2 separate regions of the Homo sapiens genome follow, and region 1 is linked to region 2. A link means that fine-mapping ties the variant in region 2 to the expression of a gene that starts in the linked region. Tissue or cell type: whole blood. Region 2 holds a variant in brackets; the other region holds the start of a gene. All regions are shown on one strand. Distances are between the middles of the regions.

Region 1 (2,673 bases), 50 kb before region 2:
TGCCTGCCTGGACCTCCCCAAGTCCTAGAATTGCAGGCATGGGCTGCTGGGCCTGGCCTTTTCTCCTGTCTTGGGAGGCTGGGACCAGTCTTCCTGGAAGTACCCAAGGCCCTCCTGCAGACCATGGTGACATTTCCAGGAAAGACCCAGAAGCTCGGAGCTGAAGCCAGGGCAGCCAGGACTGTCGGGGAGCCCTGGACACTGGCTGTCTGAGAGCGCTTGGTCAGCTGGCACCTGCCATGTGGTGGACGTGGGGCTGCAGAGACCCCACGGCTGGGCTTCTCTCGCCTGAGAGCAGGCCCAGCCACAGGCTACCTCCCACAGGGCCCCCTGAGACCACACGGCCTGCAGCAGCTCCCCCAGGCCCCCTCCCCCTGCCCGGGCAGCACTCAGCGCTGCATCTCCATCTGCTCACTCAAGTCGAAGGGCCTGGGGGTTGGTGCCTCCATCTTGTTCTGCTGGGGGCCTCCAGCATCTAGAGCAGGAAGGTGTGCGGAAGAAAACCACTCATGCAGGGAGAGGGGGACCTCCCAGTCCAGGCCCTGCTGCTGACCCTTTCCCTGAACACCAACCTATGGCCTCCAGGCTGGGGCCCCTTGAAGGACGGTGGGCCACTCGGGTGGCCTGGGTTCAGGGCCGGGCTCCACAGCTGAGTTCTGGAGGGAGGGCACAGACGACTGGGGGCTGGGAGGGGCCAGGTGAGGGGTAGGAACAGCCAGGGAGCCCTGCAGGAGGGGTGCCCAGCATAGCCCCAAAGCTGCTGGGGCTGGGCAGGGCAGAAACTGCCAAGGAGTCCCAGAGCCCTGAGTGGCGTCTGGCGAGGGCCCCTGACCCTGATCTCTGTAGACCCCACTCCTTCCGTGAGGGTGGCAGCCACTCCAGGGCCCAGCAGGGCCAAGGGAGAGGCAAGTGGCCTGGGCCCATGGGGCACTGGGCACAGCCAAGTGTGGCACCAGGGTGCCTGGGCGGCTGCTGCCACCACGTGGCCGACTTTGAGGTCGCAGAGCCCGGGGTCCAGGCAGGAAAGCCCCTCAGCTGCCCCCAGGGCCCTGGCCCAGGCCCCTGAGGCCCAAGTGAGCCACCTGGACTTTGTCACTTCGCCTCTGGTTTCTTGGTTAAGGAGCTTGAGTTCCCCGCCTTTTGTAAAGAAACGGTGGTGGCGACGGCGGATTTCAAGCTTTATTTACTCCTGGAATGGTCCTGGGAGGAGAGGCGGCTCCGCAGAGCCGGAAACGGGGGCGGGAGCTGTTGGGTGCAGCCGGGAGGAGGCAGTGCCGGGGCGGGCCGGGCAGCCATCGGGGTAACGGAGGGGGCTCCGGCCCGGGGGCTGCCCGGACGGGAAAGGGGACACGGGCGGGGCTCCCCCACCTGGGCCCCCCACCCTCACGCCAGGCCCCCCTGTGCGGTGCAGGACGAAGGAACCCTGGCCTCAGTTTCCCTACAGGCTGGGATCAGGGCCCCTGGGGTTCCGACTGTCTCGGAGGGGGGCGGCCTCGCTGCAGAGGTCTGGAGGCGGGGCCGGGGCGGGGGCGGGGCCTGGAGGGGCGGGGGCGGGGCTTGCGCTCACTTCCGCCCGGCGCGGGCTTGGATGGAGGCGGCGCGGAGGCCGCGGCTGGGGTTGAGCCGCCGGAGGCCGCGCCCGGCGGGCGGGTGAGGCCGGGAGCCGGGCGGGGGCGCGGCCGGTTTTCCCGCTCCCACGTGCTTCCCGGCGCCCCCGCGGGCCTCCCGCTCTATTCTCCCCCTGGGGAGGGCTCCCTGCCCCCGGGCCCGGCCCCCACGCCCGTCGCCCCACCCCGCGCCGCCATTCAGCGCCCGCCTTGAGCCCCCACCCCACGCCGAGCTTCCCCCGCGCCGCCCCAGGCCCTCCCGCGCCTCTCCCATCATCGCGTCTCCCCTGAGCACCCCCCATCTAACCCTCTACCTTCCCCAGGCCCTCCGCAATCTCCCCAACCATCGCCTCATCCCGCTGAGGACCCCATATTTCCACCCACCCACCCCGCTCCCCCACCCCCAGTACCCCTCATCTCCGCACTGTCTGCCCCAGCAGCCCTTCCCCCAACCCTGCCGGCCACCTCCCGCACCATCGAATTTCCCTCTAGTACCCCCCATCTCCCCGCTCTCTCTGCCCCAGGCCCTCCCGGGTCTCCCCACCATAGCGTTTCCGCTACTGAGTACCCCCTGTCTGCCCTCTCTGTCTGCCCCAGGCCTTCTGGCGGCCGCCCCTGGTTTCTCCTGGGGGGTGATGAGCGGGAGCGGCTCTGGGCCGAGCTACTGCGCACGGTGAGCCCGGAGCTGATCCTGGATCACGAGGTGCCTTCACTGCCCGCCTTCCCAGGACAGGTGTGCCCACTGGGCCCATCTTAGCGATGAAGGGGTTTCCAGGGCGGGAGCCATCGCTGGGCAAGGCCCAACAACTCTGTGTTGCAGGAGCCCAGGTGCGGCCCGGAGCCCACTGAAGTCTTCACTGTCGGACCCAAGACCTTTTCCTGGACACCCTTTCCGCCGGACCTGTGGGGCCCGGGCCGTTCCTACCGGCTGCTTCACGGGGCAGGAGGGCACCTGGAATCCCCCGCCAGGTCCCTGCCCCAGCGCCCGGCACCTGATCCCTGCAGGGCCCCCAGGGTGGAGCAGCAGCCGTCTGTGGAGGGTGCCGCGGCCCTGCGCAGCTGCCCC
Region 2 (2,673 bases):
GCTCACCCTGCTCATCTCTGCCGGGGATTGAGAGGAGGCCCTGGAGAGCCTCATCCCCAGCCCCAGGGAAGGGTGGCCAGGCTTGAAGACAATGACCCCTGCAGAGCAGATGGGACTGAGAAAGGACTCGTGGCTAGAAGGCAGAGGTGAGCAGGGTGAGGTGATGCCCAGGCTCTACCCGGCCGGAAGAAAGCAGCGCCTACTTCCATCTGTCTCCTCGGAAGGAAGGTCGGCGTCCTCGTTCTTGTCGTCTACTGGAGGCTCTTGGGAAGGCATGACAGAATCCTGCCGGAGAGACACAGAGATGGCAGCATGACCAAGTGCTAGAGCAGGTGTTACAATGTAGCTTCTGTAAACACTTTGTGACTTTTTAAAATTAAGAACTTTTTTTTACAGACAGGGTCACAGTCTGTCATCATCCAGGCTGGAGAGCAGTGGCGCGATCACGGCTCACTGCAGCTTCAACCTCCTGAGCTCGAGCAATCCTCCCGCCTCAGCTTCCAGAGCAGCGGGCACTACAGGTGCGCACCACCATGCCTGGCTAATTTTTGTATTTTTTTTGTAGAGATGGGGTCTCACCATATTGCTCAGGCTGGTCTTGAACTCCTGGCCTCAAGTGATCTTCCCACCTTGGCCTCCCAAAGTGTTGGGATTACAGGTGTGAGCCTCTGCACCTGGCCACTTCAAGACTATTTATGATTTACATATTTACACATTACAATGGGTATACTGTAATATAGTATATAAAAATCTAATTGTTATGCTATTTTACTGAATTAGATAAAGAACATAAACATTACCTATGATTCTGCAGACGGAGGTGGCCACTCGGTACTGCAGGCCATGACCTTTCCACCAAGTGCTTTATACAACGGGATATTTTGCACAATGCTTGGTCATCTCCCCTGTCCCAAAGCTGCATCCTGTCAGTAACCAAGCATCAGGGGGCCATTCTAAGGGCCTCTGGGTTCCGCCTGCAGATATGTCATAATGGAGCCACCAGTACTGGTGGTCAGCTGGGTGGCAGGCTCTGGCCTCCCTCCGCCTCTAGCTGACCACATTTCTGGGGCCGGTCTCATTTGCTTACGCTAAAGTGGACCTATGAGGTCAAAGGGCATTACAGGCTTTTTGGCAGATGCAGCTGAAGGACCTCTGGAAGGACTGTGCCAACGCATGCACCAGCCTGCGTGGTCCCCCATCCCTGTGGCTGGTGATCCTGGGGTGACACCCTGATCCAGACTCTGTCTTTATCCCGTAACAGAGGAGAGGGCACGTCACTGCCACAGGCGCCTTTCCTCCCATGCCACAGCAAGATGCAGACAAGCCACCCTCCCCAGACACACCCACTGCACGCTGCAGCAGGGCCCAGGGAGTTGAATGTTCAGTCCAGGCCTCACCCCCGTGGTTCAGTGGGATGCAGGGGGCCACACGGAAATGCCAGAGGCAGCCTTCAATAAGCAAAAGTCAATAAGGCCCCCAAAGGCCTGGATGCTTCAAGTCCAAGCACTCGGGGATGGCGGAGGGAAGGTGCCGCCCTCATCACAGGCTGGGCATGGCTTCCCAG[G/A]GGGGATGCCAGGGAGAGGCTCCAGATGTTCGGAGCCTCAGCGTGCCCAATGCTACTAGGTCAGACCTGGCTTTCACCTCCACAGTCCTTAAGAGCTGGTTCAAGACTGGGGTATGAATGAACCTTACCTCCGACCCACTGAGCAGAGCGTACCACGTCCTACCTGAGCCTGCTGCCTGAGCCTCATGCCCCAATGAGCAGAGTGTGCCGGGGGCTTGTGGGGGCTCAGGAAGATGGGTCCTATCCAAGACTGCCGCCTGAGTCTCACGCTGCAGCCCAGAGCTAGGACGGCACCACGGCCCCTCTTGAAGAACCCAGGGTCACCAAGGTCTGCTTGGACAATGGGCTGGCTGCCACGCCCCGACCCCGCCCGTGCCCCCCGGGCCTCCCCAGCCCTGCCACTCACCATATGCTTCCTGCAGGTCAGCGGGACGAGGCCGTGGCAGCGCTTATGGACCAGCAGTTTGCAGTTGATGCACCTGTAGCCTTGCCTCGCGAGGCCCCATATCCTCTCGCTGCACTGACCGCAGTACGCTCTCTGCAGGTGGGAACAGAGCGTCAGGCCCAGGCCACACTGAGGGGCCAGCGGAGAGGACAGGCAGGGCCTTCCACACCTATACCTTCTCAAAAGAGGACACTGAGCCGGGCAACAGGTGGCCCCGGCACCTTGTCCCTTCCGGGCGCCAGGCTTGCCCAAGCTTGAGAGCCTCCTCTTGGGTCTATCCCAAGGTTGGGGGAACCAGTGGCCCCAAGGAGAGGCCTGGAACCCTGCTCTGCATGAGGGGACACAGGGGAGGTGCCATCGGGCAGGGGTGACGAGGTGCTGCTTCAGGCAAGGCCCCGTGGCTTGCAGGGGCTGGGGGGCTGCAGCTCCTGCTGCGCTCTGCGTAGAGCAGCCTGGGGTCCCGTCTAGGGCTAAGCAGAGTGTGTGGGGGTACCCCCTGCCTGACCTTCATTCAAACAGAACCTCCTCCTGACAGCCTCAGAGAAGGGGAACTCGGACTCATGAACATCTTGAACTGCTACATGGCAGCCTGCAATTATCTTAGTATTCTTTGTTCAGTATTTTTCAAGATTTTAAATGATCCTTCTTTATTCTTCATGGTTCT

Evidence for each region. PIP is the estimated chance that this variant, and not a neighbour inherited with it, causes the effect.
Region 1: FAAP20 starts here. The variant in region 2 is fine-mapped to the expression of FAAP20 in whole blood (TOPMed, PIP above 0.99).

What each region holds. Positions count from the first base shown.
Region 1 is chr1:2,193,665-2,196,337 of GRCh38, reverse strand. It overlaps FAAP20 (FA core complex associated protein 20), which reads left to right and starts at 1,566. Exons shown (of 4, transcript NM_182533.4): 1 at 1,566-1,650; 2 at 2,205-2,340; 3 at 2,428-2,673. The coding sequence starts at 1,589. RefSeq lists an enhancer at 1-598 and silencers at 1,232-1,711, 1,722-1,811.
Region 2 is chr1:2,143,639-2,146,311 of GRCh38, reverse strand. It overlaps PRKCZ (protein kinase C zeta), which reads right to left. Exons shown (of 18, transcript NM_002744.6): 6 at 1,971-2,102; 7 at 204-285. Among named protein-coding and RNA genes, the nearest start is that of PRKCZ-AS1, 39 kb to the left of the region's middle. The variant G/A (reference allele first, on the strand shown) is at 1,565.